Regions from separate parts of the Homo sapiens genome. Here region 2 is linked to region 1. The links come from fine-mapping of genetic effects on gene expression. A gene starts in region 1. The other region holds a variant in brackets. All regions are shown on one strand. Distances are from middle to middle. Region 1 holds the start of ABCC12 (ATP binding cassette subfamily C member 12). Region 2 overlaps ABCC12 (ATP binding cassette subfamily C member 12).

Region 1 (16,528 bases):
TTGGCATTATCTGGTCAAGTTAAAGATTCTTACTAACATAGGCAGCAATTATCCTTCTTAATTATATATATGCCCTGGAGAAAGCCTGCCTGTTCAAGCAGTCAGATACAGAGTGGCCACTAATTTTGCAGGCTGTCTTCCACTCTCCTGCGAATTTCCTCCCTGCCCCTGCTAGCCTCTCTTCTCTCATACTGGTGTCAACACTGAAGTTCAATCTAGGAAAACACAAGGAAACAATCCACAGAGGATGGAATCTCATGCAAAAAATATTTTTGTGGCCCCTCTACAGGAATATTTATAGTGGCTCTGTTTATAATATCTTAAACATACATGAATAGGAAAATGGATGAACAAATTGTATAATATGAGTTTGGCATATTACTATTCAACAGTAAAACTGAATCAACTAAGTCCACATATCAAACTATGTGTATAGCTCATATGATAAATTGAGAGGAGGGGAAAAAGCTGCAGAAAAATACACACACTTTGATACCATTTATATAAAGTTTGCAAACTTGCAAAATATACAATACACAAATTCATGTGCTTGCAATATATAATAATATATTTTATTTAATAATGACTATATTTGTAGTAAGATTTCATTTCTCCAAGTACTTGAATCTCCTTATATTGGAGAATCGTATTAGAACTAAGATCTGGGCACTAGGTAAATTCTTTGTTATTAGGATGTTGTTGCTTCTAGGCCCTCTCAGCTGACAAAGCAAGGAAATATATGTATGCATATTAACTAGTGCATAAACACATATCTATAAATATTTCTATATGTAACCGTCCATATCTATTTTAAGCTAACAGTGAGTTCATACTGACTCTCCAACTTGAATCCATTACCATAATTATCACAATTCTAGCCTCCTCCCCTTGCTTATTTGTAAGCTCCAATTCTAAAACTGAGAAGCCTGGCTCTCACCATCTACCATGTGTTTACTTAACTGTGTACATGTATAGCAGTATCAGAATTGTCAACCCATAGCCCTGTGAGAAACAACTTAATCAACTAGAATCCAATGCTTCCAAGAGTATAGTACCATATGGAAAAGGAAAAAAAAATAGCAACTTTGCAGTGGAGAAGCCTGGCACACATCACCTCAGCCAGGTAATCAAGGTCAACATCAGCAGTGATAAGTCCTGTTGATAACGTGTACCCTTAATATGATGGGGCAAAAAGGGCACTTTACCTCTGAGGTCCTCCGCCCAAAACCTCATAACGCCGGTCTAATCATGAGAAAAACATCAGACGAATCCCAATTGAGGGACAGTCTACAAAATACCTGACTGGTACTCCTCAAAACTGTCAAGGTCATCAAAGACAAGGAGAGCCTGAGACAGTGACACAGCCAAGGGGCACCTAAGGAGACCTGACAACTACCTGTGAAGAGGCATCTTGGATGAGATCCTGGAACCAAAAAAGGATGTTAGATAAAAACAAAGGAAATCTAGTAAAGTATAAATATTAGTTAACAATGTAGCAATATTGTGCATTAATTACAACACATATACCATACTAACATGAGATGTTATTAATGTTATTAGCAAGGGTAGCTGGATATGGGGTACTGGAGAACTCTGTACTATCTTTGCAATTTTTTTTGTAAACCAAAACCATTCTTAAAAAATAAAGTTTATTTTTACAGAATGAATGGGAACACTCTACACCAAATTCAAGATGATGGTTACCTCTAGGGGTGGGGAAATAAGATCTGGAAGTTACTCAGGTTTCCTCCCACATTGCTGTAATATCTGATCATAAGTTTAAGAATCTAAAGCCGAAAGCAGGCTGTCTGTGCTCAGTGTCACTGAGTAATGCAGACCTGTGCTACAGAAGTTCTGAGAAAGTAGAGGTCAATACGGTCTGGGAGGAGGACGGGGTTAGGGAGGACTTTTGTGGGAGGTGAGACTAGAAGGATTTGAGAAAAAGCCCAAACAGAGATTTTTGCCTGAGCCTTGGTTTGTGTGGTGTGCCCGTGTCATGGGGCTCTATGCACCAGACTTAGGTAAGAGTCGAGACAAGGCTTGGCATGACCGTGAAAGACTTCAGATTCAAAACCTTCCTTGGATCCTTTTCCACAAGACTTCCATTTGTTTGTTTACCAGAAAGCCCTTCAGAATTTTCTGTACCCAAGGCACCCTCCACTCAGAACAGCCTCCTGCTGACCTCTCTGCATTTACTTCAGGAGACAGAGGGAGGCTATCCACTGCAGAGATGCTGGGGCTGAAAAGTTTAAAAATTGGCCTCTCATTCTTGCATAGGTCCTTGGCTCCCTGCATGAACAGAACCCAGCCCTGGTCTGGATCGGAAGCAAGAAAAGAAGCCTGAACCCAAGTACGGCCTTTGGGCACGGTCTTTCTACCACATGTCCACCCGCTCTGCAACTGCCGGGCACAGCGGACAGTCAAGCTGTGGTCCATGATCAACAACCTACGACCTCCCAGTGGCCGCTGGGCCACTGCCCTGCCCTTGGTAACCTGAGCAAAGCAGAGGTAGGAAAGCAGGTTAGCTGATGAAGAAGAAAGAGCTCACGGCAAGTTCTGAAACCCAGCTGAAATTATTTGGGGGAGAATCATAGAATCCAAGACATGGCAAACCAGCCTCTCAGGGAGAATTTCCCTCTGGCCCACCAGATCGGGCCTCAACATGCTTTGGTGACAGACCCCAGTCACTTCTTCTCAAGACGGCCCGCATGCAGTATTCCTGCAGGAAATGCATACCCTGCGTCTAGTCTTGAGAAAATACCAGATGAACCCAAAGGAGCTTTCTACAGAACAAGTGGCCTGTGCTCTTCAAAAACGTCAATTGCACGAAAGACAAAGAAAAGTGAGGAAACATCCCAGATTAAAGGATACAGAAGAGATGTGACAGCTAAAAGCAACACACAAGCCTGGATTGGATGCTTGACCAGAAGAAAATTAATTTGCTATAAAGAACATTATTGGCCCAAGTCAAAGGTCAAACTGTGCACTTGACTCTCAAGTCACCCGCCTGACCCTCTTCCAAGTGTACTTTACTTTCTTTCATCCCTGCTCTAAAACTTTTTAATAAATTTTCACTCCTGCTCTAAAAAAATAAAAATAAGTAAATGAAATGTGTAAAAGAACAGTATTGGAACATTGGAGAAATCTAAATATGGACTATAGATTCTGCAATAATATTTTATCAAAGATAAATTTCCTGATTTTGATATTAATGCTAAAGTAAATGTGGCAAAAATGTCACTGCAAATCTCAGTGAAGGGTAGTTGGGATCTCTTAGCATTATTTCTGTTACTTTTCTGTAAGTTTGAAATCATTACAAAATAAAAAGTTAAGCATTTTCTAAAGAAATAGCCCTAAAGGGGATGATTTTTTTTTCCTTCTGTGGAACTAAATGCAATTTTTCTGCACACTTCTCAGCTCTCAGGAGCCATGCATCCTCCACTGATGTCCTCTTCATGTGCCCTGTGATATTTGAGGACCATTGTCATTTCCGACAACTCACTCCCAGCCACCCAGTGGCTAGTCCTCTCTCATCCAGGCTAATCTTTCCCAGCCCCTTTGAGAAGGTGGAACTCATTGTCAGTGGAGAACCCTTACCTATAACTTCTATTTTTTGGTTCCCTTTTCTAATGGTAAGGGACCCTGGCAGCAAGATGTCATCAGCTTGTCTTAAGGGCTCCTGAGTCCCAGATGCCAAACACTGGAGGCCAGGCCTCCCTGGCCAGGTTTGAGTAATCAGCGCGCATAGGAAATTGGTGCTAGAAGGTAATTTCCTTGAGTGCTCCCCAGGGCATGTGAAGTTTTGATGATCTGAGGCGGCTTGGAAGCATTGCAGCTGGAATGGCACTTTGCTAAATTTGGCAGCCCTGGGGGGAAAAATGAGACTTTTTTTAAAATCAGGAAGCCTGCTTTGGCTAACGTCTCTATCCCCGTCTGTCACGCCATCCTCTGCCAGGAGTGAGGAGCTGCCTGGGGTGAGAAATCTGTTTGCTGGCAATCACAGGATGGGGTCTGAGGGGTACACAGCTGATGAGAGCTGGGAGGAGGCAGTGCCAACCGGGCCAGGGTCCCTGCAGCCATCATGGCTCTGTTCTTGGCATTGTGTTTTCCATGCAGAGCATCTGAGGGTTGGCAGGAGATGCCAAAAAGTCACTGGTGCACCCCTCTGCTAGCAGGCAGGGGGTTCCTAACCTAACCTCAACAGACTGGACAGGCAGAAGCAGGAAGGCCTCTGTTTAGAGCACAGGACACAAAGACCATGTACAACTTGCAGTTCCATTTTATATGGCCTGCATAGTTTAAACATTTTTTTCCAATTTGTGGAAAACATTTAAAAATGAGGAGATACCACATTAAAAAAAAAATAAGACTGGCTTCTGGCTTTCGTCAAATATCAAGAGCTCTGTATGTTCATGTGGTGACAATCCACTTACGTTGAGCACGGCAGCCCCTCCTGGGCAGGGTATACATGCTTTAGTTTGCCACAATCCCCACCACTCCTTACTGTCTCTGTGACTCTGAGATTTGGGGTCATGTAACATTTATTATTGCATTGGCACTGCTGTCTTCCTTATAGTGTTTCCTGAGGCCTTTTTCTCTATCCTTGTCTCTGCCCCAAGAGAGAACAAAAGATGTCTAGAAGTCATCTCAAGAAGAACCATTTTCCACACCTGCCCACTTTGCTCTGTTATATTTCATTTCTGCCCCTGTCTAGCCCAGAAAATTAACAACTTTATGTTTGAGAACTGGACTCTGGGTCTTCCTTGGTGCTCATGATGGGAGTTCCTCCATCAACCAAAAGCAGGCACACCTTTAGTCATAAAATTTTTCCCAGGTATGAGACTACAGCCCTACTTCTTTCTTAATAAATCCATTGTTAATTTAAAGCCACCAAAGTTATCAATATCTGATGGTCTCCCCCAACTCCCACAGCCCCTTCCTCCAGGGCCTGACTGGCCTCCAGCACAGAGGAGACACTGGGGAGCTCTCCCAGGCCCTGCCTGCACCGCACCTCTCCTGTCTGTCCCCAGGTCCCAGGCACCTGTGGCAGCCAGATCAGAAAGCCCTGTGAGTGATGAGGGACTGGGGTTGGGAGGCAGGGAGAGGCAGAGAGGTGGCAGAGGGAAGTGCATGCAGGGGACAGCACCAAGCTGGGGGTGTGGGAAGGGAAGTGGGGGTGCTTTTGCTCAAGTACCCTCATCTCCCAGAAGGCCTAAAACAGTGGCCAGTGATGGCATCTCCAAAAGAGGTCATCCATCCAGTTACAGACACATTCCGACACGATCAAAGAAGGATGCAGAGCCTGGATTCAGAGCAATTCAAATCTACCCTCCCAGGAAAATAATATATTTAAAAGTTAAAAAAAAAAAAAAAAGAAAGAAAGATGAAAACCTCATATGAGAACTGCAGTAAAGCTTTCCAGGTCTTTTTTTTTGGGGGGGAGGTATAAATCCCATAATTAAATTGTGAACACTACCCTGTATATGTGTTTGTGTTTGTGCATGTGTGGGAAAAGACTTAAAATATTCAATGTAGGCTTTTGTATTTCAGAGATTTTGAAATCGCGTCTTGGCATTTCTGCCTTTTCTTTTATGATAGCGGGGGCTCCAAAAGTGGAAGAGGGGCTGCCTTTCTTCTGGGAGCCTCGTCCCTGCTGCCTCCCACTTGGGCAGCCCCATTCAGTGGTGTCACCTCCCCCAAACCCCCCACCACACACACACACAGCCTGTCCTGAGGATGAGAAACAAAGGCCCTTGGGACTAAATGGTGGCCACTAATTGTTACAGGGAGAAGCTTTACCTGGGCTGGAAATGAAGCTTTACCTGGGCTGAGGATGAGAGGGAGGGGAGGAGGGTCAGCAGTCATGGGGCTCAGAGCCTGGCATCTGCTGCCCAGGACTCCAGGGCCTGCTTCTCCCCAAGGACCTCAGATTCAGTTTCTCTTGTCCCACCCGCCTGAAGTCCTCCTCTCCAACTGCCCCATTCAACTGCCACTCCCACCACACCTGAGAGGGAACTCTGGCGGGCCAACATTCCCTCTGCCCACATTAAAGGGCTCTCCCCTCTTCCAGGATGGCCTGTGGCCGGGTCTGGCTCTTTGGTGACAGTCAGAGCCCATGCATGAAAGCACTGTGCATGGCCAGCCCTTCCCTGGCTGTCACAGCACATCCTTGTAGAAGAGAAGGAGAAAAATCCTCTCTCCAACCGTCATTCTACAGACGAGAAGCCCAAGGAACAGAAGCCTGTCCACGACTGGCGTGGGGCTGAGACCAGCACCCAGGTCCCCTGAGTCCCACTCCAGGCTCCTTCCTGAGAGAATGCATCGAATTTTCTACGCTGTGTTCCTGCAACCGGGAATCAACTTTGGGATCAGGGGAAGGGAAGGGAGGGGAGGGGAGGGCAGGGGTAGGGGAGGGCAGGGGTAGGGGAGGGCAGGGGAGGCGAGGGGAGGGGAGATGAGCCTCATCTTCAAAACAGAAAATCTCATTCATTCATTCCCCATTCATTTAACGAAAAAGAAAAGGGTAATTTGAGCTCAATTTGTCTTGAAATGAACGGAAGGTAAGTCTGAGACCTGCACTAGCAGCTAGCCCTTGCATAGAAAAGTTCCCCTGTGTCACCCTTGGAACCCTGCACATCCCGAGCGCAAGCGTGATTCCCGGGGTCCCTTCTGCGCCTGTCCCAGAACAAGCGCCCGATTTCAGGGGAGCCCAGCCGAAGGGTTCCACAGCGCTCAGCGAGCCGGCTGGGAGGGAGCAAACTCTCTAACTGCAGAAAAAAACAAATCTTGATTCCGCTTTAAGGGTTATTTAAACATCTTAGAGGACCTTCCCAGCCTCACGCACGTGGATTTCATGAGGAACTTGGCCGCTACCTTCTCCTGTCCTGCGCAATGCCGCCCCCTGCTGGCTGCCTTCCGGCCCCGCCGCTTCCTGGAGATGCGAATTCACCGCCTTTGCCCAACCTGAGTTCCCTTCCTACCTAGAGGGAGGTGGAAATGGAGAGGGGCTGTGGGCAGCTGTGTAGGAAAATGGGTCCTCCCAGGAAGGCTCCCCGGCCTGGGGAGTGAGCTAGACCGACAGCAGTTTCCTTACACGTGTCCAAAGTGTTCCATTTAATTTCCGTCCATTCTTCCCTTCATGAATGCAAATCACTGCTAATAATATCACTCGACATTTCTGGAGCCCTTTGTGTATCGCAAAATTCTTCATCCTCTTTATCACTTGATCTTCGCAACAACCCCGGGGGTCTCATAAACACAGCAAAGACTCGCTTCCACAATCTTCCAAACGGAGTCAAGTGCTGTCAAGTTTATGGAGGAAGAATGCCGATCAGTTTTCCTCTATCTCCATGAAAGGCTGGGCGGAGATGGATTTCCACCCAGACAAACAGTATTGGGCGCTACGCAAGAAGATTGGTGGGCCTAGCCGGAAACAGAGTGGAGAATGATGGAGAGGGACTGTCCGGTCTGTATCCAAGGAAGTCCTTAGGAAAAGACCAGCCAAGCTCCTGTTCCAGGCAGAGCGTGGACTCACCCATAGTCAGGGAACTGAGGCCCATCCTGGGTGTACACACAGCTCGCGGGGGGGCGAGATAATCCACTGGAATACAAAAAGAAAAAAAATAGAAATCCTTTTCATATTTCTCCTCTTCCTTTAAAAATTCTATTTTGGCTGTGTGCAGAGGCTCAGGCCTATAATCCCAGTACTGGGGGGCCAAGGCAGGTGGATCACTTGAGCCCAGGCATTCAAGACAAGCCTAGGCAACATGGTGAAACCCCATCTCTACTGAAAATACAAAAATTAGCTGGGCGTGGTGGCATGTGTCTGTAGTCCTAGCTACTTGCGAGGCTGAGGTGGGAGTATGAATTGAGCCAGGGAAGTCAGGACTGCAGTGAGCTGTGATCGTGCCACTGCATTCAGGCCTGGATGATGAGAGTGACTCTGTCTCAAAAAAAAAAATTGTGTACAGTGATATACATGTGTAGGGGAGAAAAAGTGTGATACTTTTCCTCACCAGTCATGTGGGTCATGGCTGACACTCTTGTAACAAAAGGCAGACTAACAAAAGGAAAGCATAACAATTTTATTTCATCAAAGTTTAATGTGACATGTGAGTCTTCAGAAATGAATACCGAAAGGCTCAGGAAGAACTGTCCATTTTTATGCTTAGACTCAATGAGGAATGGACAGTGGTATAGAAATGCGATTGGACAGAAAGTTCTGATTAACTGTAATGGACCGAGGTGATGGGATGGGGACCCAGCAGGGCCTGTCTGTTCAGATTCTTCTTGGCCTCTCTGCACAGCATTTCTTCTTTCTAGGTATGGGGCACGACCCCTCTGGAATGAGGGTCTTAGGACCTACTCTCAGACAAAGTTGGTCAGAGAATTTCTTTACGGCCAGCTCCTGTGCAGAAGGGTGGAGGAAAGTTTGAGTCATAGTTTTAGGTTCTATCGGTGGCTTTGGGGGAAGAATTTCTATGACTCACCTTGGGGAAGGGGAACTCTGGTTTCTATGACTCACCTCATGGGAGAAGAGGTGCACAAGGGGTGCAGGAGGGCAGGAGAAGGTCAGAGAGAACTTGCTTCTGAGGCTGCTTCTGAGGTCATCCAAACTCCATCAGTTCAAAGTACTCAGCCTGCCAAAGTGCCATACTTTGGGGTATTGTTGTCCGAGCCTCAACACATGTCCACCCTGCACATCCTTGTAAATAACTATACATGCATAAATTAGGGGTCTGTGTGCGCACATACCAGCAGTGGTGCTCCATGGCAAGGGAAAATTGGTGCTTGATGGGAAGGAAATTTTCCCAGCTCTGAGGTTCTGTGGGGTCTCTATTCCAAAGTGAGGTTCTCGCCGGGCATGGTGCTTCACACCTGTAATCCCTGAACTTTGGGAGGCTTGGGCAGGCAGATCACCTGAAGCTAGGAGTTCAAGACCAGCCTGGCCAACATGGTTGAAACTCCATCTCTACTAAAAATACAAAAATTAGCCGGGCATGCTGATGCACACCTGTAGTCCCAGCTACTCGGGAGGCTGAGGCAGGAGAATCGCTTGAACCCTGGAGGCAGAAGTTGCAGTGAGCCGAGATTGTATCATTGCATTCCAGCCTGGGCGACAGAGCAGGACTCTGTCTTAACAATGACAACAAAAAAGTGAGGTTCTGTCTGAAAAAAAAAATAGAGAGAGAGGAGTGGGGAGACAAAGACGGAAAGAGACAGATAAGAGAGAAAGAGCAGAAAGACTTGGCCCAAAGGCCCCAAGAAGTGCTCAGAAATCAGTGTGTGCAGTTACATAGAATCAATAGCTCACAGTGGCTAAGAGTAGAAACTCTGGAATCAGATCTGTCCTCAAAATCTCTAAATTTCAATGTCGTCAACTACAAAATGAAAACACTATCCTGAAAGCATTGTAAATTAACTAAGGATTAAAGTGGATCATGGAAGTGAAGCGCTTAAACACAGTGCCTTAAACAAACACTCAATAAATGGTAGCTATTGTTTGTGAATAAGAATTTTAAAATTAGCAGGATCTCAGCAGGGCGCGGTGGCTCACACCTGTAATCCCAGCACTTTGGGAGGCCGAGGGGGGCAGATCACGAGGTCAGGAGATAGAGACCATCCTGGCTAGCACAGTGAAATCCCATCTCTACTAAAAATACAAAAAAATTAGCCAGGGGTGGTGGCGGGTGCCTGTAGTCCCAGCTACTCGGGAGGCTGAGGCAGGAGAATGGCATGAACCCGGAAGGCGGAGCTTGCAGTGAGCCGAGATCGTGCCCCACTGCACTCCAGCCTGGGCAACAGAGCCAGACTCCGTCTCAAAAAAAAAAAAATTAGCAGAATCTCGCTAGAAGTAAGAATTCTACCTCCTGGGTTGCTATTAGAATCTGTCTAGTAGAAATACACTGATGTCTCTGCTAAAAGAAGGGGTTTGGATTTTTCACTTTATTTGCCTAATGAACTAAGGCGAGCGATATAAAAGGACTGTCAAACAAAGCTGATGTCAAGTGATTTTGGAAAGTAATTGGAATTTGCATGGACTTTTAAAACAGTAAGTGGAAGAAATATATGTAAGTAAAGCAATAATAGGATTCGTGAGCCAGAAATACATGCATGCAACAGTCAGAGAACAAGCCCTCTAATAAAGAACAAAAATATTTCACAGCCAGAAAATGTGGGTGCTGTTCTCAGCTCCACCACTTAACAGCTTAAAGACCTGAGCAAGCCCCTTGGCTCAGAGAGCTGATCCTAGGAGTTAAAACCTGCCCCCAACATGAGAAAGAATTCTCAAAGAATCCATTCTCAGAATCAGGAAAACTATGCTAATTGCAAACAAATGAATTTTCCATTTAAATGGTGGTCATAACAATCTTGTAATAAACCTATTTCTTTCTTTGCATGGGCTGTTAAGGAGTTTAGAGCAAAAACTCAGCCATCTCTAGTAACTGTACACAATCTTATGGCATGCACTTATATGCAATTATATGCGAGGAAGTGCTCTGTTAAGTCTAAATCATGAACACACCCCAGATCAGTGAAGGATATTGATATGTGAGGGGAGAAGGAGGTGGGGAGCATTTCAGTGAATGCCACTGAGAGGGACTGAGACCCTCATATCAGAACAGAAGTTTCCAAATCGGTACGGTTCTCTCTAGAGTACAATGCTACCCATTAAGTATCTGGGAACCAAGGATTTGGCAAGAAACACGCTTATCAAGTCAGCAAAGTGTACTCCTCTTTGCTCTGATGAATCACAGTTTTGCACTAATGCTCCTCAGAGATGCCGCACTGGATGGCAAGCTCTGCGTAAGGGGCTGTCAGGCACTAGAAATAGAACTTCCATGAAGGGGCAGCCTATCTGTCCCCCTGCTCTGAGCAGGCCATGCTGGCTGGTTTGGGGGTGAGGCCTTTATCCCCAGCCCTTACTGCTTGCTTCATCCTTCTCGTTTTCTTCCCTCTCCTGTTTTATTTTATTATTTTATTTTATTTTGGGGATGGAGTTTTTCTCTTGTTGCCCAGGCTGGAGGGCAGTGGCTCGATCTCGGCTCACTGCAACCTCCACCTCCCAGGTTCAAGCAATTCTCCTGCCTCAGCTTCCCTAGTATCTGTGATTACAGGCGCATGCCATCACGCCCGGCTAATTTTTGTATTTTTAGTAGAGATGGCTTTTCACCATGTTGGCCAGGCTGGTCTCGACCTCCTGACCTCAGGTGATCCGCCCACCTTGGCCTCCCAAAGTGCTGGGATTACAGGCATGAGCCACTGCGCCCAGCCCCCTCTCCTGTTTTATATTCGAGTTCTAAACCAGCCTATTAAAAGCCAGTGGTGTGGTTGTGGGCAAGGTATCTCCTCCGCCTGGGACACGAGTTCCCTCTAGAAAATCAAAGAGCTGAGTTAAATGCAGGTTCTTAAATTGTTTGTGTGCCATGGACCTCTTTGGCATTCTAGTATATTCTCAGAAAAAGTATTTCTATGCATGAGATAAAGTACATAGGATTGCAAAGATAACCAATTATGCAGAATGTGCTTATGATAATATGTATAAAACACAGCTGAATACTGTAAGGTATATGCTTCTATATTGATGCACTAAGTAATGTGATCTAGCAGAAGTTCTAATGACTATTATAATTTCAAAGCATTGATGCATGTAAGTGATATTTTGAGACATCTGAAACAATTGAAATGAGATTTGAGAATACCGCTGATTTCTATTGGTAACAAAGTCACAGATACTGCTAATACTATCTATTTGTTGCCCCATCAAGGAAAACACCAAATTTCAGTTTGTAAAAATAAAGATGTCATTTTTTTCCCATCCAAATTCATAGATGCCCTGAATCTAGCTAAGAGGTCCATGGACCACAGGCTAAGAACAGCTGGACTGACGACTTCTAAAATTGCTTCTGACTCTGAAGCAGTTGGATTCCACAGAATTTTCTAAATGATGCCGGGGGACAGATTAGGGGACATTTAGGATAATGGGGTGAAATTTTACAATCTTAACAGCTGGCACCAGAGTGAATCAGAGGGTGGGAACCGTTTTTGTTTAGCAACTGCCTTGATCTGTCTCTTGGGGCAGTCAGAGACACCCTAATGACTTGCTTGGCAGGAAAGGGCACCAGAAGGGAGAACTAAACTGCTCTGCATAAAATGTGTCCAAGAATTGGGAGGCGGGGGCAGGGAGAACACAGACAGTAATTAGAGAACCAGAGAGGAAACCAGAGCCAGAGTGGGTAGAATGGTGAGGGACTCCTTAAGAAAGCACATGGTTGATATTCAATTGGAAGTTGTTGACTTGCTGTCAACAATTCTTTTGACCCCACCCTTCATTCAAGTGGTCTACACATACAAAGGAAATAAGGAGAAGTGCTGAATTCTCCTGCTAGATGAATGCAGTGGAGCAAAGGAGAGGATGGATGGCCTAGCGGGATGCTCAGGAAGGCAGAGTTAAAAGAGGTCATGCAAATCAAAGTGCCCGGAAGCACAGGAACTTTGGGAAGCACATTCACATGGGGGCCTGGACCCTTCCTGTCTAGATCATATGGGACACGTGCTCTCAGCTAACCTCTGTGTTCTCAGAGCACGGGCCAGAGACCAGCAGTATCAGCAACATCTGAGCCTTGTTAGAAGGGCAAATTCTTAAGCCCAACCCCAGACCTACTGGATGGAACTATATGAGGTTGGGGTCCAGCAATCTGTGTCTTGCCCTCCAGGCAATTTGGATACTCAAGTTCAAGTTTGAAAACTTCTGCTGTCAGGCGTTATTATTTCCATTATTGCATTCCAGTGTCCCAGTCCACAGAGAGGTGTATGCAGAATTTCTCCCAGCACTCAGCCTTGGGGGACCCGCTCCCAGCCTGGGGATAAGAACACTGCCCCTCACCTTGCACTGGAGAGAGCTTTCCAGAGCCAGAAAATGCTCCCAGCCACGGTGAGCTCCCTGCCCCTCCAGGCAGCCACTCCCTCCTGGGACCTTTCCAGTGACCCAAAGGTCCATGCCTTCTAGGCTGGGGCTGCCCTCTGGAGCCACTTTTCTGAAAGAAGCCCTTCCGGACCGGAAAGACTGAAGTCTGAGTCTTCCCCTCTTTCTGCTGGTGCCTTGCACAGCATGGTGCTCTGGCCACCATAGAGGTTGGTCTCTGAAGACTGCTCATTTACCAGTTTCTCTTACGATATTGTCCAGGGCTGCAGACAGAGGGCAGGGCAGGCAGGGCCAGCGTGACTGTGGCCTCCTTTGCTCTGCACATCAGTTGCTGTCATTGTGGACCACACTGTTACAGGAAAGGAGCTCCAATCCAGACACCAAGAGAGGGCTCTCGGATCTCACGCAAGAATGAATTCAGGGCGAATCCATAGAGTAAAGTGAAAGGAAGTTTATTAAGCAAGTAAAGGGGCCTGGCACGGTGGCTCACGCCTGTAATCCCAGCACTTTGGGAGGTGGAAGCGGGCGGATCACGAGGTCAGGAGAGCAAGACCATCCTGGCCTAACATGGTGAAACCCCGTCTCTACTATAATACAAAAAATTAGCTGGGCGTGGTGGCGGGCGCCTGTAGTCCCAGCTAGTTGGGAGGCTGAGTCAGGGGAGCCGCTTAAACCAGGGGGGCGGGAGCGCGGAGGTTGCAGTGAGACAAGATCGCGCCACTGCACTCCAGCCTGGTGACAGAGCAAGACTCCGTCTCAAAACAAAAAAACAAGTGAAGAAATAAAAGAATGGCTACTCCATAGAGCAGCCCCGAGGGCTGCTGGTTGTCCACTTTTATGGTTATTTCTTGATGATATGCTAAACAAGGGGTGGATTATTCATGCCTCCCCTTTTTAGACCATATAGGATAACTTCCTGACGTTGCCATGGCATTTGTAAACTGTCATGGCGCTGGTGGGAGTGGAGCAGCGAGGACAACCAGAGGTCCCTCTCTTCACCATTTTGGTTTTGGTGGGTTTTGGCCGGCTTCTTTACTGCATCCTTTTTTATCAGCAAGGTCTTTATGACCTGTATCTTGTGCCAACCTCCTATCTCATCCTGTGGCTTAGAATGCCCTAACCATCTGGGAATGCAGCCCCGTAGGTCTCAGCCTTATTTTACCCAGCCCCTATTCAAGATGGAGTTGATCTGGTTCAAATGCCTCTGACAACATCACCCCAACTCATGCCTCTAGAACCTCTAAAAAAATTCCATGACCTCCTCTCCGCCAGTATGGAATTGAAAATAAAAATAATAACAAACCATCAAATAAATATAACAAAGCACAGCAAAGCCCTGCATTCTCTCATTATAATTATTTTAGTATTATTTTTGAAAGACCAAATACCAATTTTTAAATGTTTATCATAAAACATTTCTGAAACCTGAAAAGGTGAAAAGAATTATTAAAAATCAAAGCCTCATACACTCACCACTCAGCTTAAGGAATAAAATATTACAATATTGGCTGGGCGTGGTGGCTCACAGCTATAATCCCAACAGTTTGGGAGGCGGAGGCGGGTAGATCACCTGAGGTCAGGAGTTCAAGACCAGCCTGGCCAGCTTGGCAAAACCCCGTCTCTACTAAAAATACAAAAATTAGCCAGGTGTGGTGGCAGGCACCTATAATTCCAGCTACTCAGGAGGCTGAGGTAGGAGAATCGCTGGAACCAGGTGGCAGTGAGCAGAGATCGCGCCACTGCACTCCAGCCTTCACAACAAGGTGAAACTCCGTTTCCCTCCCTCCCTCCCTCCCTCCCTCCCTCTCTCTCTCTCTCTCTCCATATATATATATATATATGTAAAATCAATGTTGTTTAAAAAAACTAATGGTATTTTTCAAAAAATTCTGCTTTATTACTGCTCGGAGCCAATGGTTCTCACATTTTGCTGCTGGAGGTGGGGACGGGGGCAGATGGGATGGGGCTCTGCACACTGAGTGGAAATGGGCTCTATTTCCTGTCCTCTGACTCCAGGGGTCAACACTTTTGTGGCGAATTATCTCCGGGGATCCGGCCAGCTCAGAAGCCCAGTGGGGCCATCACCGCATTTTTGGGACGAGGCTGCCATCTGCTGGTCGCTCAAGGAAAAGACGGCAGCTGCATCTGGCCTGGGGAGGGCCAGTGTGTAGAGAGCTCCCTCACCCGTGATGAGGGCAGTGTCCCACAGCAGTTCTGGGAATGGGGAAGCAGAGGAAGGAGAGTCACCCTCAATGGGCAGATGAGCAGCTGAACTGTGATGGGATGGTAGCATATGGGGTTCCCAGGGACACTTCAGGGCCCAAAAAAGAAAAAAGCCAGGACTGAGGGGAAGGGAATAACAGAGCAAAGGTTTTTTAAGAAAGATAAACCCCCTAGAAGGAGAAGCAGGTGCCACTAGAGAGTCCCAAATGGGGAACAGAAGGTTCGCGCTCCAGGGCACCGGACTTCTCCTGTTCCGTCCAAGGATTGCATCAGCCCCTGTAGTAGCTCATTCCCGCAGGGATTTGTTTGCTGTTCTCTCTGCCTTGAACATTCTTTCCTGCCCCAGTCCCCTTCCTTGGAGTAAATGTTTGTTCAGTGCTCAGGTCTCAGTAAACTGTGCCCACACTGCCTCCAGGAAGTCCCCGGGGGCTGCCTTTTCCTCTGCATCCTGTTCCTGCTTCTAGCCTCAGGTAGCCCTGTTCTGGATCGGCCTGTTTACTTGTTTACAGTTTTACTGTTTACTTACCCTCACGAGATTCCAAATTCCCTGAGGGCAGGGACACCATTTCATCCCCAGCACCAGTGCAGGCAAGAGAGTGAGAAATATTGGTTTACTAAATTGATTTTTTATGGCATTTTTTGAAAATCAGACATCATAATCTGGAATAAAAAGGAAAGTACTTTGAAACATATTTCCCCCAACAACAAGGTCTCCCCAGAAGTAAGTTGAAAATGATTGCCTTTTCTATTTGTCTGTAACCACATGTGGAGGGTGGGGGAGTGAGAACAAGAAAGAGAGAAAACAAATTATTTTATTTTCAGTTGTCATACGTTGTAAGTTATGCTGCTCTTCAGTAAACAATCATAGTAGACAGCTGCTATCTGGGGCCTGGCCAGCATCCATATCCATTCTTCCCTCAGGCACAATTTTACTTTGGTGAAACAACCTCTTCTATTCTCAGTCTACATGATCTAGGGCAGCAAATCCCATCCCCAGGCCCAAATATGGGCATGTGGCTCAGGCCTGGCAAATCACAGTATGCCAACAGCCTAGCACATGATTGATCAGGAACAAGCACATGACCCAAGCTGGCCCAGTGAGATTTCACCCTGGAATCATTGAGGCAAGAAGACCTGGGGGGTGCAGAGTGTGTAGGACGTGAACCTGGAGCTGCAGGCAACCATATTGCCACCATGAGGCAAGAGGAAGTTAGAAAGTGAAGCCAAACAAAGGAAAGCAGAGCTAGGAGAAGAGAAACAGAGACCTCAAAACAGGCATCCTTTCATTCCGGCACCCAACCTTGAACTTTTTCTGTATCTTTCTGTTACAAGACCAACAAACTCTTTTTTTTTTCCAAAGTTAGTTTGAGGGAGTCTCTG
Region 2 (16,528 bases), 64 kb before region 1:
TATTTTACTGTGGCAAAGAAAGTGCAAAACAACAATCATTTCAATATTGCAAACAGGCACCAGGGAAAGACCAGGGAGTAGACGGACATTAATAATTTAAAATCACAGTATGACTCATAGAACCCCATAGACAATTCACCAAAAGAACAAATGATGCAGATGCAGTCCCAGAGAGCAAACAAACAAGTGGAAACAGCTTTCTGGATTGCTGTTTCCAGGGACCAAATAGAGATGGGATGGGAGAGTTTTCTGGACATTAAGGAAGGGTAAGACAGGGTCTGACTTATCCAGAGTGACAAGCCAAAGTGGCCTTGGAAGATGCTCATGTCGGTACCAAGTCCTGGAAAAATATCACGTTGGGCTGCAGAGGTGTCCATGCTCACCTGCTGACCCCAGCTGGGGCTGTAGCTCTTATAGGACAGGGTTCCCTCTCACAGATGGTTCGGTCCTCTCCAACCAGCCATACTTGCCATTCCCAGAACATTCCACACCCTTCTGTTTTCTGTGGCTTGTCTGTTCTGATAGCAAATGAGGCCACTGGCAGAGTAGCAGGGCCTTCCATCTGCTCTACAGCCAGACAGGCTTGAGTTCAAGTCTCCATCCTGCTACTCACTAGCCTGGGCATGTTACTTCCCTGAGCTTTAATTTCTTCATCTCTAAAATTAGGGGTAAGAGTACCAACCTCAGAGCATTGTAGTAAGGACCAAGTGAGATGATACATGTAGTGCTCTTGACTGGATCATTGTAGAGCCCTATTGTTGCTTTTAATAGGAAAGAATAACTAAGGATTATGTTCTACTGACTTACGTGGTGTCTACAAATAAACCTGGCTAAGTGCTGGCCTAGGTGCTTGTCAAATTTAAACATAGGCCAGGAATCTAGGGCAGTGGTGCTGGGAAACAAACTCCTCCTCAACAGCCCCAGAGACCTACTGTGTCTCTCATGAATGTTCTCTCCAGAACCTGCCAGAGCATCTCATCGGTGTGACTCTCAAAGGGATCCAAGTTGTACCTGCAATGAAGGAGAGGAGAGGACAGGGAGCCAGATTTCCAAGGACGAGAGGATGGATGCGGAGCAGGTTTTCTGTAGCATGTGGAGGAGGGTAGGAGGTGGCATGTGATGACCTCGTGCTCCAAGAATAGTGCTCAGTACAGGACAGTGGTCCACAAAATATGGACCTCAGGCCACGAGACCAAGGGCCCACAACTCTGCAATGGAGCAGAGACCACTGAGGCAGGCAATGACAGGTGGAACCCTGCCGAGAGGCAGCTCTGAGCAAGGTGCTCAGAAAGACACACCTGGGCCTCTCAGCAGCCCCGAGTAGCAGAGTGGGTTTGAACTGATAAAAATTCTTGGCAGAGAAAGAGGGAGAGTGAGCAACCCAAATCTGCCACTCCATGTATCGGCAGCTCCTAGGGCCTCACAGGGTGCTGAGCAGCTCAGACGCAGAATGTAAATCTACTGTTTCAAGAGGCAGAATGCATTTTTCAAACAATGAACTCTAAATACAGTAAATACAGTTACCCTACTTCATCTGGTGCTGTATGGGAGAAATGTTCCTCTCATCACAGAGAGAGCTAACTGAGAAACTGCCTTTCCCCTTGTGCCTTGATATCAGATCTGGAGCCCCACAGAAGCTGCAGCCCTACTGTTCTTGTGCTTGAAATAGCTTCTGTTCACTTAGGTGTGGAAATAAATGAATGCACTTTGCAATGGATAGCTGTATACACGGGGTAACTATTTATTTTATTGTGCAAACTGGGACACTTTTCAGAGTGGCCATTGTTAAACCTGATGGGATACTGGGACACAGGCATAAACTAGGGCTGTCCAGAGCCACTGGAATATCTGCTCAGTGTATGAATGAATACAGAAGCATCTTGCTCATTAATAATGTGTTTATAAAACACAAGTAATGCTCAGACCCCGGGCCCTGGCTCCTCCCAAGGCTGGATGCAGAAACAGGGACCAGCAGTGCTTGTGAGCCCCCCTGGGATACTGCTTCCCTCAGACAGAACAGCTCCAGGCCAGCCATGCCCTGGGGACATCACAAAGTTCTTGGTCAGTCTGATTTCACTCTCCAAAAATAGAAATGCACAATGATTAAAAACAGCTACCTTACTGTACCTACAAACAGGACAGGATCCTGTGGGATCACAGTCAGCTTGGTTCTGAGGTCTTCCAAGCTGAGAATGCAGATATCCACCTCATCAATAAAGATTGTGCCACTGGCTGGCTCCACCAGACGAAACAAAGCCATTCCTAACGATGACTTTCCTGGGAACCATAAAAGTAAGAACAACAAATCAAACATCAGTTTGTGCTTCCATCATATCCAAGCATTTAATCAGTGGGATTTTTAATGCAATGCAAATGTCTCCGTAAGGATGACAGTGTAGACAGAAAGTGTCCTCACCAGGGTGGGGGTGGAGGGATGGGCTACCCTGACACAGTTAACCTGCCCATCCTTGCAGGGGCCCTTAGCACACAACTCATCTCTGGAGCCCTGTTGCACTAGGATGATTGTCATTTAATTAATTCAAAAACTGATGTGTTTGCTTCCATCTCTACACACCCATTCAACCTGAAATCCTAATTTACAGTAAAGAGATTTGAGGGAAATAACAGCCAATCTGACACACATACACATCACTCTCTGGTGTGACTTAACTAGGACATCCAGTGGAAATCCAAAGAAAACAACCCAAAAGAAACAAAAGCAGAGCTTGTCCTCACCGGAACCTGTTCTTCCAACAATCCCGACTGTCTGCCCACTTTGTATGTTCAAGTTCAGGCTGTCGAGAACAAGGGGGGTGTTGTCTCTGTATCTCATCTGATAGTCTCTGAAGGTGATCTCCCCACGGCTGGGCCAGTCCTTGGGACAGGTCCCCACTTTGAGGGGATGAGTGCATTCAGGAACACAGGTCTGTAAAGGAGAATAACCAATGACCAGTGACTAGCCATTTGTTTTTTCACTTATTTAACTAATTCATTCATTGATTCACACAGTTTCAGGTACTGCTATTCATGGTGGTGAAATAAACCAATAATGACCCTTAATTCTAGAAACTCACATTCCAGTGGGGATGTCAGATAATAAACAAGAAAAAAAATTAAAAATGAAGACAATAAAACAGAATATTGCAATAGGATACAGAATGTGATTTGTGTGTTGGGAAAGGGGGGTAGGAGAGTAAAAGTACTTGAGGTTTCAGGAAGGCACCTATGTGACATTGGACCTGAGGGCTGGAGTGCTGGGAGGATGTCAGCTACAAGAGAATCAAGTCCAGAGCCCTCCAGGTTGGGGGAATAGCTAGCACAAAGGCCCTGGGGCCAGAATGAGCTTGGGCAATTTGAGGGACGGAAAGAAAAGTCATGTGGCTGGAGCTTAGCGAATAGAGGGATGGATGACTTAGAGGAATACACAAGGGGAAGCTCATACTGGGCCTGTGGGCCTGGGAAAATGTCAGAAGTGTAGCCCTGAAGCTGTGTGACAAGGCCAGACATAGCCTTGAGTTTGCAGAACTCAACCAGATATAATTTCAAAATCTGCAAGAATCATCATTATACTAGAAGAAGAAAGATGATAAGAATGCAGGATGTCAAGTTCAGAGGTCTTTAGACATACATGAAAAAAAAAACATTTAAGTCTCCTAAGAGTCCAAGAAATGCAAGGTCTAATTAAGGAGTAGAGCAGCTTGGCTTCATCACAAGAGCAGCCCCTCCTCTTAAGTCACCTCTGTGTAAACAGCTGGAAATAGGGATCCCGTGTGCCCCATCAGGATGGCGGACCAGCCCAAATCTCTGGTCAATAAGCAACCTCATTTAGCTGAGAAAATACCTGTATTGTTAAGGACTGAGTATTTTTAACCCCTAGAAGATTTAGAATTAGGAATAAAAATATTTTAGAGAAATGAAACTGTAACAGTAATATTTTTAGTTTAAGAAATCTGCACACTTGGTGTTTCAAGTATTCACAATATATTAACAGAACTTGGGCTTGTGACTCTAATTTAAAATGCATAATTGAATAATTGATTTAAACACGATTTTAAGTTAAAAGTTTACTGTTTATAGCATTGATACTGTCATGAAAACTTAAAGCTTACTATGTTTATAAGTTTAATTAATTAAATTTGTACAAACTCAAGAAGGTTTGTTGTTAAATCAGATCATTGAGGTACTTAAAAAGAAATTGAATGTATTAAATTTTAAAATGCAGTTTAAAATGTTTTAAAATCTTTAAGTTTGTAAATGGAGCCAAACACTCTTCAAAGGCACCTAAATGTGATTGCTAGAATTGGCTAGACTTCTTTTAAAAGAATAGCAAGATTTGTAAGTTGGATATAAAAGCTTTTAAAGAAGAGTTAGACTGAGCTTCTATTTTTCAACTTATGACTTCAATCAAATAATAATTTTTAACTTAAAAAAATTTTAGAGTCAGGGTCTAGCTCTGTTGCACAGGCTGGAGTGCAATGGCATCATCACAGCTTACTGCAGCCTCAAACTCCTGGGCTCAAGTGACCCTACCTCCTTAACCTTCTCAGTAGCTAGGACTATAGGTGCATGCCACCACACGTGGCAAATTTGAACTTTTTTTTTTTTTTTTTTTTTTGGTAGAGACAGGGTCTCACTGTGCTGCACAGGCTGGTCTCAAACTCCTGGCTTCAAGCATTCCTCCTGCCTCGGTCTCCAAAAGTGTTGAGATTACAGGTGTGAGCCACTGAGCCTGGCAAAATATTAATTTTTAGAAACCAAAGTAAGCCACTGAATTGTATTTTTCTGTGTATCAAAACAGCCCTTAAGGAAACCTTGTTAAAAAGAACCTCACATTCAACAACAAGAACTTCAGAATGTATTGTAAATACAGGTTTTAAGAAGAGGGATGACTCGTCCGATTTGGGGTTTTTTGTCGTTGCTATTGTTTTTGATTTTTGAGATGGAGTTTTACTCTTGTTGTCCTGGCTGGAGGGCAATGGCACGATCTCGATTCACTGAAACCTCCGCCTCCTGGGCTCTAGTCTCCCGAGTAGCTGGGATTACCACCGCTCGCCACCATGCCTGGCTAATTTTTGTATTTTTAGTGGAGACAGGGTTTCACCATGTTGGCCAGGCTGGTCTCAAACTCTTGACCTCAGGTGATCTGCCCGCCTCGGCCTCCCAAAGTGCTGGGATTATAGGCGTAAGCCACCACGCCCGGCCCGATTTCCGTTTTTTAAAAAGACCCCTTTCGCATCTAAAAAGATCCAGTATTTGCCCAAGTCCTGCCAAAATTAACTTGTCCCTCCTCTCTGATGCACTAATTTCTTACCGAAATGTATTCCCTGAGCAGCTCCACGGAGGTGAATTTGGCTTGCGTCTCTGTTCCCGTTCGCACACACACTTGGAGCAGTCCGCTCAGCTGTTGAAAAGGAGCGAGCAGCCGCAGTTAGAGCCCCTTCCTCCTTCGGGTTCTGCAGCTCCCCGTTCAGGAGGCAGTCCTAGTGAATGATCCCTCCCCTGCCTAGCGCAAGACAGCACAAACAGGAGGCCTGCCTTCCCAGCCAAGCGCCCAGAAGTAAAGATATTCCTGTTCGGGTGTTTTGCCTTTAAACACTTCCTTTGTATTTAGAAACAAATGGTAATTACATTTTTCCCTGGCACTCCAGATGGTGAGAATCATCTCCCCACAGAACCACTTGATCACACGCCTCTTTGAGTGGTGGGAATTCTCCCTGGGAGCTGCAGAACTGCTGGCTATCGGCCCCTTGCTGCCACCTGGCAGGGTCTTGCATCTCAGAGCAGCCCTCCCCTAGCCCCTTGCTCAAAAAACAACTGAAAACCACATCACCATGAGACCAGAAAACCATCAAGCCTGTCTTCTTGTTATAGTAATGAGAAAGTCAAGGCTCAGACTGGGGCATGTGGCTTGCTAAGGTCACCCACCTTAGGCCTGGATCTCCCAAAAGCCAACCCCAAGATTTGACTGCAAGAAGTATATTAGGGCAGGTTGAATGGTGTCCCTACCCCTAAAAGATGTGTCCATTTCCTAATCCCTGGAACCTGCGAATGCTCTCTCATTTGGAGAGAGGATCTTTGCAGGTGTTAGCAAGGATCTTGATATCATCCTGGATCACCTGGGTGGGTCCTAAGTCCAGTGATAAGTGTCATTATAAGAGACAGAGGAGAAGTCACCGAGGAGAAGGGGACGTGAAGGCAGAGGCAGAGACTGGAGTGATGCAGCTACAAGACAAGAGATGCCAGGGATGGCCAGCAGCCACAGAAGCTGGAAGAGAGAAGAAAGATTCTCCCGAGCCTCCGGAGGGAAGCTGGCCCTGCCAACACCTTGAGTGCGGGCATCTGACTCCACAACAGTGAAAGAAAACCTTTCTCTTGTTTGAAGCCTGCAAGCATGTAATTTGTCACAGCAGCCTTCACAAACAAACATAGGCGGTGAACCCAGATTGTACCAGGAGGGGATGGAGGAGTGAGCAGGGGAAGAGAGGCCACCCATACCAGGTGTGT[C/T]TGTGAGATGTTACCGCTGTGGGCAACTGAGAGTCCGGCTGGTCTTGGAGCTCTGGGACACTGAATGGAGCACACCTCGGAACTGTCCCGTGCTGGGGCAAGGAAGCCAGGGTACACAGGGCTACAGAGCCACTAACTCCCTCAGTCATTGCTGCACTTGCTTCTGGGTGTGAGAATGCCCGGAACCTCCAGCCTGCCCTGGAAGGGTGGGGCAGCCACAGCATTTGTCACCAAGTGGGCTAGAGGCAGGGCCATCTCATGCATTAGCGAACTTCATTGACTGAGCAGTAGCCATGGGCCAGGTACTGGTTGGGGTGCCGGTTTCCAGAGTTGAAGGTTATAGACAAGATCCCTGCACTCAAGCAGCTTCCATTCTAGTGGACTGGCAGGGATGGTGCACAAGGCCACTGCGGGAGTGACAAGAATGTCCCAAAAGCAGGTTGATGTGGGAGAGGGGCCGGGGCTGGAGAGTTACCTTAGATAGGGGTTTCCAGAGGACTGTGCGAGCTGAGGCATTTATGATAAGAAGTCCACCAGTCAAACTCAGGATAAGAATGCTCTAGTAAGAAGCAAGCGGTCTTAGCAGCAAAGAGGCAGGGGGTGCGAGCAGGCGCGTGACGTGGAGAACGCTATGGGTGCAGACCCTCTGAGAGCCCCTCAGCAGGCCTCCCTGCTTAATACAGTTCAGCAGTTTCCACTTCTTTAGAGCAATGGCTCTCAACCTGCCCTACAGAGGACATTTGGCCATGTCTAGAGACAGATTGGGTTGTCACAACCTGGCGGGAGGGACGTAATACCAGCGTCTCATGAGCAGAGCCAGGGAGGCTGCTGAACATCCTACCACGCACAGAACAGCCCCTCACCAGAAGGATTATCCAGCCCCAAAGCCCACAGTGCCATGGTTGAGAAACCCAGTCTTGGAATACAGGTAATACCCCGCCCCTGGCTTACAAAGCTCTATGTATTCTACTCTGCCGGCACCTCATACCACCTTGCTCAAGCCATGTGGGCTTCTCAGATCCTCAAACATGCCAGGATCATGCCTACCGCTGAGCCTTTCCCTGAGGCACTCTTTCTTCCAGTCTTCCTTGGCTGGTTCTTTATCCTTCAGGTCTCAGCTTGGAAGCCACCTCCCAGCAGAGGCCTCCTCTGGCTGTTGTATGAAATGCTGCTTCCCCTTCCGACAGCCACATTCCTCCACTCGTTGTCTTCCTAACATTTAAACACCTTCTGAGCTTCTCATCTATTTACTTGGCCCTCATTTATTCCAGCTGCCCACTAGAATGAGGGCAGGACTTGTCCAGACTGCTGACTGCTGATTCCACAGCCACTAGCACAGTTCCTGGCTCATGGTGGGTGCTCAGGGGATATCTGGCAAATGAATGAATGAACCCTGCCCTTGAGAAGGGCATATACATCTTTTGCTAAATGCAAGAGTATCAGCTCCCAAGGCCACGGCAGCCCTCCCAGGTTTAGGATGCCCACAAAGGCACAGTGCTGGCCCCAGGAAGTGCTTATTCTCCTACGTGATGTGATATGATGTCACTTTGCATTCACTTTCTGCTCTGTGGGATTTCATGCCAATTTCTCATCCATCTGGGGAGTCTTCTCTAATCTCAAGTGGAGTGCTGTCATTTTGATTCTGTGTTCTCCAAAGGGGGCTAATGCTCAATGAAGCCACAGAGCCAGCTGGAGAACAAGTGTTCCCATAGATCTCAATGCTGTGCACAACCTTACAGGAATGTTTGAAAACAATCTCATGGAAAGCTGATAATATCGCCCAAAAGCATGACCTTAGTTGGGGAAAGCTGTTTTACTTGGACCAATTAAGGGAAACTGTTCAACATCATCTGTTTGATATTTTACTAGGCAACAACAAATGAAGACATCTATCAATACAGGAAACTGGTTACCCAAGGAAAATTCATTTTTCCCCACTTAAGAGAGAGTACAGAGAATACATTTTTGTTTCCTTTCTTCCCAAAATACAATTTAAATTATATCAGAGAAATTTTCCATAAAGAATAGACCTTTAACAGTAAGGGGATTGAGAAGAGATAGCAGTGAATAAGCTACAAATTTCTGCAAGATGGAAAGAGGACGAAAGCCTTTTGATAAAATGGAAGCAGAGCATGCTAGAGTTTAAAGAGCAGAACCCAGAGAGGCTCCAGGTGTGAGAAGGGGGCCCACAAAGAGGCTGGCTGATAGGCTCTGTATATAGACAACCACTCCTGTCTGGTTCACTCACTCCTCTTCCCCTCTTCTTTCTCCTAACCAGAGTTAGTTGGACCCTTTATCCCTAGGCATGGGAGCACACATGCACATGGACACACACACATAAACATGATTTTCTCTAAAGAAATTGAATTAACTGCCTAGGGATAAATTGGGCTCTCTGAATAGTCCCCTGCATAAAAACTCCTTTAAGTCTTGCATTTGGGTACCTAAAAGCCAGCTCCCTGGCTGCTTTCCTGAAGTGAAGCCAGCCTATGGAAAAGCCCCACCACCCACCTACCTGCAGTCATAAAATTTCCCATCAGGAGACACCTAGCAAGGTGAAACAAAGGCAGAGGAAACTCTGAAAACCCAACCCAGTTCCCCGGAGTTAAATACTAATGGGTCAGGAGACAGATGGACAAAACCAATGGCATGAAAGAGCAAGAACGAGAGAAACAAAAAGAAAAACTACCTCTGGAAGAAACAGATAGATGCAAGTCAAAGAAGGGAGGAGAGTTTAGGAGGGGAAAAAAAGACTCTAACTGATATGGTTTGGCTTTGTCCCCACACAAATCATCTTGAATTGTAGCTCCCATAATTCCCACGTGTTCTGGGAGGGACCCAGTGGGTTGGGAGATAATTGAATCGTGGGGGCAGTTTCCCCCATACTGTTCTCATGGTGGTAAATAAGTCTCACGAGAGCTGATGATTTTATGAGGGGTTTCCCCTTTCACTTGGCTCTCATTCTCTCTTGTCTGCCACCAAGTAAGACGTGCCTTTCACCTTCCACCATGATTATGAGGCCTCCCCAGCCACGTGGAACTGTGAGTCCATTAAACTCCTTTTTCTTTAAAAATGACCCAGTCTCAGGTATGTCTTTATCAGCAGTGTGAGAACTAACACACTAATTAATATTAATATCCTCAGAGAGATTCAAAAATATGCTGCATCCATGTAAAAAATGATTCTTTTAAAAACTCAGAGAATAAGAGCTTGTGGAAATTAAATATGTGAATATATGATTGCCAAATTTAAAATTCAAGGAATAGCTGAATGGCAAAGCTAACAAAAATTCCCAAGATAAAAAGACAAGAACATGGAAACTGAGAGAAAAGAAAAAGAAACATAGAGAATTGATGCAAGAAATTCAATATTCAACTGACATGAATACAGTAAGAAAAAAAAAAAGAAAGAAAAAGAGGACATTGTCAAAATGAAGGAGAAAAAGGAGAAATGTTTCCAAGCTGATGAGAAATTGGACTTTAATCTTAAAGAACTCACAGCATCAAACAGAACACATGAATAAAGACCCACATTCAGATACATTATCCCAGAGTTTCAGAGCACTAAGAATAAGGACTATGTCAAAAAAGTTTCCAAAGATAACAAGATTCAAACAAACATGAGGACCAGGTGGCCTGCATTCAAATCCTGGCCCTCACATGTGACAGCTGTTATGATCTTGGGACAAGTCTTTCTGTGGCTCAGTTTCTTCATCTGCAAAATGGGGACCACAGCAGTATTAGAGGGTTGTTGTGGGGAGGAAATGAATTAATTTAGTTAAAAGACAGGGCCTGAAGCCAATCACAATCAATGCCGTATGTTCACCTATTATTGTTATTCAAAAGAAAAAAAAGCAACCAAGAAGAGAAGTCAGTAATTATTTGTCATCAATATTATGACTGTCTCCCCAGCATTCATTTCACTCCCTCCACTGTGGAGTAGCTATGTGACTTAAAGTTGGAAATGGGTGTAACTCCAACCCTAGCCTAACCAATGATCCGTATCCCATCAAACCACTAATTAGTTTTGGGATGCCTAAATTAATCCAATAATAGTAATGCTCCAGGCTTTTGCCTCCATGGCTGGGGCAGGAAATGCTTTCCTCCAATAACAGTAAAGCTCCAGGCTTCTGCCTCCGTGGCTGGGCCAGGAAATGCTTTCTTTCTGCTTCCTCTTTGCTGTAGACCCCAGAGGCTGCTGGTCACCTATGAGGAAAGTCATCACAGGGCATGGGCAAAGCTCAGAGACATGATCCCACTGTGCCTGAAGTCCACACAACCATCCTACTTTTTAATGATGTGAGCCACTAAGCTCCCTTTCTCATTTAAACCCATTCGAGTTGGGGTTTTTGTTGTGTCCATCCAAAAGCACCCTCGCTGATGTATTACAGGCCGGAGCCTCCAGACTAAGCCCAACTTTGCACCAGGCATTACCTGGATGATGTATGACAATGACAGGCCTTTGGATGAAGTACTGATGGAGGAGAAACTCAGGGTCACCAACAAGGCCACAGTGAAGGTAAGGATGTTCATGAGGACATCCATTCTCAGCGCAAACCACCTGAGAGCACAGTTAAAGTAGAGGAGGTGACTGGAGTTTTCGTCGTTTAGCGTCTTAAACCTACAGTCAAGAAAATCAGAAAAAGCAGGAGATCAGGTTGTGCTGTAGACTTAAGGTTAGGGTGACTGGAGAAATGAGGCCAAGGAATTTTTAATCAAGGGAACACACTCTCACATAGCAAACTCTTACAAAAATGAACATATATTCATGCTCTTAAAAATCTGCCACTCTAGACATCTTTGATTTGCACATATTTTGGGAAATCTCATGTGGCAATAGAGTAGGGTGCTAAGTGGCTCTTTCTGTCTTTCCCAGAACTGGCAGCTAGAATCTACAGCTGAGAAGAAGAGGTGCCGAGTGCTTCACATTCTGACTCCAAAGGATCCCTATCGTGGAGTCAGTCACCCTCAAAGGCTTTGTGGAATTGACAATTGGCCCCCTTGATCTATAGAAAGGGTGGGGGTGGGTTGTGGAGGAGGTCACCTTTAGGGAAATCAATGTTTGTGACTGTAGAGGAGGGAAGGGAGGGTGCATGTTAGGTTTCCCTCCCTGAATCAGAGAAAGAAGATTGAAGACAATTGCTTATAAAGCTGGGAGCTTCTTCAAGGACAGGAAGCTGACACCTTGCATCCCTGCTGCACGTCCACGGAGCCAAAGGGCTTGGAGAGGGGGGAAGAAGCACAGAGCGGAGTGACAGGGAGATGACACAGCCAGGGGATGGGGGCAAGACCCACCCCCTGGAGTTCCGCATTCCCCAGATGTATGCAAGGTGGATCCCATCAGCTCCACAGTTCCTAGGGCTGAGATAGCAGAAGGAAGATGACCTTGGAGGCTGCAGTCTTGATGTGACGGTCCCTGGCATGAAGCAAAGGGGCCTCCACATCAGAGGAGTGCAGTGTGAGGGCTGCCAGGCAGAACTCACAGGAAGACCCAGCAACTCCTACCGATGCAGCAATGCTGGCAGAACTCCTGGGGTTCTGGCCCTACTGGGGCCTCCAAGCTGCTGTCCCACATCTGCACAGTGCATTGCAGCAGCAGGAAAGGATAGCAGAAAGGAGAGAATGGCCCAGAGGTGCCAGTCACCCAAGGATGTGTTCTTCCTGCTGTCCCCTCCCCAGTTCCCCCACATGGGCATCAGAGAGCCAGGCCTGGAGAAAAGGAAGAGGGTGTTTAAAAGCACAGAGCAGGTGCTTCTCAATTGCAAGCCTGCCCCACCTGACACACACACACACACACACACACACACACACACACACACACACACACAGCATAGCCTTGCCACACCAAGCCTCTGGGGGAAAGAGACCTGTGGCTTGAATATATTCAAGATTGAAATTTTCACCGCACTGAGCTGACCATTAACCAAAAGAGACATCAGATTCAATTGCCACTGTGGCTTCCCTGATCTAGTGGGGAAGGGCTTCATGAGAACAGCTGGTAGAAACTACTGGGGGAAAAATGAAAACCCTTCCACGCTTAAAGCCCTAAGGAGGTACAATTCCTCCCCTGGCATAGCTGTGAATGGCCTCAGGCACTGCTGCTCCATGCTGTCCTGGAAGGCCTCCCAGAGTTCTGCCTGGAAGCCCCTCTGACCAGCCGCCCTGGGCTCTGCTGCCCTCTCCTCCTCTCTGTTTCAACTCTAACTTATTTTCCCCAGAGCTTAGTCAAAATATTCTTCAAAACACAGTGCTGTTTCTATCATGTAGCTATACAGCATACAAATTCAACTGACAGCCTCCATGACCTGGAAGTCACCTGTGGTCTTATCCGTGTGGTTGGTTAGATTGCATAGAAACAAAATCACTAGCTGGGATCAAATTGGAATTTGACCTCTAATCTTTTTACATTTTTTAAGCTGTAGCATTTTTGTCTGGTGGCAAATGCAATACACGTCAGAAACCCAAGCCCTTTGGAAAGAAACTATTAAAAGAAGGGAACCCCCATCAGTCATTCTTGGCTCCCTATAGGATTCTCTCAGAAATCTTGGAGTAGAAGCTGTGGGAAGACAAAGTTTGCATGTGTGTTTGTTGTGGGTGAGTAGACTAATGGCTCCATGGGCTTTCCTCATGGCCAGGACTTTGGAAGTGTCTATGTGTGAGGCAGGACTCTTGACAAACGATGTTCAGGTCAAACTAGGGTCCGGACTAGGTGCTGACTGAACTAAAGACAAGGTGTGATGTCAAGTCTACTCTGAGATCCTGGGTGGTAAAATGGAGGGGGCGTGAGAGAGAGAATTAGAGGCAATTCTAAATTTAATGCAATTCCAGGCTGGTTGCAGTGGCTCACTATAATCCCCGCACTCTTGGAGGCCAAGGCAGGTGGATCACTTGAGGTCAGGAGTTTGAGACCAGCCTGGCCAACATGGTGAAATGCTGTCTCTACTAAAAATACAAAAATTAGCTGGGCCCCAGTTACTTGGGAGGCTGAGGCAAGAGAATCGCTTGAACCCAGGAGATAGAAGTTGCAATGAGCCGAGATGATGCCATTGCACTCCAGCCTGGGTGACAGAGCAAGACTCTGTCTCAAAAAATAAAAATAAAAATAAATAAATTTAATGCAATTCCAAACTTAGAATGCATTCGATGCACCCTTTAGAACTGCATCTAATTCTTTCTCTCTGAAGGGTGTGTTGGCATTTTAAGGAAGGAAAAGACAGAAAGTGGGAAAGGCTGCTATGGATTCACCAAACTCCATTTTCTTTTCCTCCTTTGGACACAGCTGGACTACATTTCCCAGCCTCCCTTGCGTTAGGTGAGCCCATGTGACTCCAATGTGGCCAAGGAATGTGCAGAAATCTTGGGACACTTCGCTAGGGTTGGACCATAAAATCCCCCTGGGTCCTCCTTCCTGGCCTCTCGCCTTGTCTTCCGGCCTAACACAGAAGATCCGAGAGAATACCTCAGGGCCTTGGGACAGAAGAGCCCCAGATAGAAACAGACTATGCCTGAGTGTGGAGTACAATCACCTACTGTTGCCCCATGGACCTTCACTAAATTGTGACATCAGGAAAAATAAAAATTTATTGCATGATCTCCCTAAGATTTGGGCTTATTGTTACTGCAGTGAGCCTACTGTGATTTATCCTTTTTCTTTTTTTTTTTTTTTGAGACAGAGTCTCACTCTGTTGCCCAGGCTAGAGAGCAGTAGCACAATCTCAGCTCACTGTAACCTCTGCCTCCCAGGTTCAAGTGATTCTCCTGCCTCAGCCTCCCAAGTAGCTGACATTACAGGTGCCCACCACCACACCCAGCTAATTTTTGTATTTTTAGTAGAGATGGGGTTTCGTCATGTTGGCCAGGCTGGTCTCAAACTCCTGACCTCACATGATCCACCCACCTCGGCCTTCCAAAGTGCTGGAATTACAGGCGTGAGCCACCGCGCCCAGTCTGATTTATACATTTTATGTCATATTTTAGAAGTTTGAAGCTGGAAGATGCCAGAGAGATTTACTAATGTAGTCCCCATATTTTAAAAAGAAGAAAATGCTAAGTGAAATGAAAGGTGGCCTTTAGAAATTATTTTTACAAGACTCGTGTAATAACATGAAACAGGCTATTTCAAACTGTTAAATAAATTTAAGAAATGATTATAAATAAGAAGAAAAAGAAGACGCCATGAATAGAAAAAAAGAACAAAAAATGGAAGGAAACATGAAAAAATTAATAGGTTTGGGTTTGGGGAGGGGCTGTAAGTGATTTTTTTCTTCTTTTTTCTTCTTTTCCCTATCTTCCTGAATCAAACACATTTTTACTTTTAGAATGAAAAATAGAACAAATGAGGTTGTCATTGAACAAGCTCCCCTCATTCACATCTTCTGGGGCCCAAGATGCTGGAAGAGAGGCTGTGAGGCCAAGTGTCTTCAAGGACTCCTCCTGATTCTTCCAGCTCTTTGTCTGTGATCAGTCCCCAGCAGCCCAGACTTCCCTCCTCCTGTGCACTCCCCATCGGAGTCAGGCATGAAGCATGGGGGCCTGGGGCAGGGCCCCACATGGGACTCACTAGGTGATGCAGCTCTCCTTCTTGCCATAGGCGTGAATGATGCCCAGGCCCTGCATGGAGGAGGTGATGTGGGTGAACCAGGGTGACCGGCTGACATTCTCCACCTTCTTGAGCTCCTGGACTCCTCTGTGGAAAATGCTGGAAGAAAATTGAAAGGGGCCAGGTGGGCCACAAAGTGAGGTCTCATCAGGCTTGCCCTCACACATACAGAGCCAACTAGGCACTCAGCACAGTGCTTAAGTCAGAGACGGTGCCATCTAACTGGGGATGAAGAGCAGCCTGCCATTCTGCAGTGGTGCCTGCCCCAGGTGTGGGAATGGCGGAGGCGTGAGAACCATGAGTCAGCGGCACCTTCGTTTGGCCACGGTGCTGTGTTTCTCATATCAGGAAAGTCTCGCTCCACAAGGCGTGATTCTAGTCTTCTAAAACCAAAATTTCTCATACAGCACAGCCCCTAAGTATCAGCCAACCACTTTTTGGTGCCCAGCCAGAGAAAAAGTGATCTGATCTAACTCTGGAAGAAAACCCGGTGTGTCAACTGCCAACATGTGGCCTTCTAAAGGCATTTTCAAAGGTAATTTTGAATGAACGTCATTATAGCTGACTTTAAAACCAAACACCCACGGGATGCAGCTCCCCTTTATGTGGAAGCTCCAGGAGCCCTGGTGAGCAGGAGACCAGGGACCTCGGGTGTTTACAGCAGCTGGCTGGCCCCCGAGAGAGAAGACAATCAAACCTCCAGACTCTCAGCCAAAACAAACCCAGGGCAGTGAGGAGGGAAGTCTCATTAGTGCAGAGCTAAAGTGAGTTGTTTGGAAACACTTGGATAATTCAAGCAGGACGAGCTCTGGTCTGTCTAGTCTTTATAGCTAGAGGGGTGGGTACAGAGCAGGGAAAGAGCTTTTACTAAGTAAATCAACTGCATAAACAGGAGGACAGACAAGAGCAATGATCAAATACAGGAATGACAAAAAGGAACATGAGCCCAAAGAATCCACTGTAAGCATGACATCCAGGACTTGCTTTTATCCTGTAAATGACTCTCAGAAATTATTTGTATTTGGTCATCACAATAAACCCTTGAGTTTGGAGACTCAGACCATTTCATTTGGAGACAGGAGAAGAGGGTCTGGAGGCAGGGAACCTAAGGCCAATTCACGCTGACTTCCTAGAACTAAATCAAAATGAAAACCCCAACTTTCCCCGCCTAGGTAACAAAAGGCTCAAAGGCTACTCTCCTTGCACACCTGCCCCTTTTTCTGGATGACAGATGTACCTTTGATTAGTCCCCTCCCACAACCAATCAGGCTGGTGGCAGGCCAAGTCTTCATTTGTATAGGAGTAACTGTAACTTCACTTCAGCCTCTGATTAGTCGCTTTCTGCAACCAGTCAGACTGATCATGGGCCACTACTTCATTTGCATGGGGCGTACACCAAGTGGCCAATGGGAAACCTCTAGAGGGT

The links. PIP is the estimated chance that this variant, and not a neighbour inherited with it, causes the effect.
Region 2: its variant is fine-mapped to the expression of ABCC12 in testis (GTEx, PIP above 0.99).

The regions. Positions count from the first base shown.
Region 1 is chr16:48,150,019-48,166,546 of GRCh38, forward strand. It overlaps ABCC12 (ATP binding cassette subfamily C member 12), which reads right to left and starts at 5,975. Exons shown (of 31, transcript NM_001393797.1): 1 at 5,823-5,975; 2 at 3,598-3,866. ABCC11 (ATP binding cassette subfamily C member 11) reads right to left here. Exons shown (of 30, transcript NM_001370497.1): 30 at 15,755-16,528. RefSeq lists enhancers at 7,959-9,158, 15,002-15,503, 15,504-16,003 and a silencer at 16,161-16,330.
Region 2 is chr16:48,085,809-48,102,336 of GRCh38, forward strand. It overlaps ABCC12 (ATP binding cassette subfamily C member 12), which reads right to left. Exons shown (of 31, transcript NM_001393797.1): 23 at 15,064-15,201; 24 at 10,938-11,094; 25 at 5,312-5,401; 26 at 2,737-2,926; 27 at 2,118-2,277; 28 at 933-1,011. Among named protein-coding and RNA genes, the nearest start is that of ABCC12, 62 kb to the right of the region's middle. RefSeq lists an enhancer at 15,086-15,785. The variant C/T (reference allele first, on the strand shown) is at 6,505.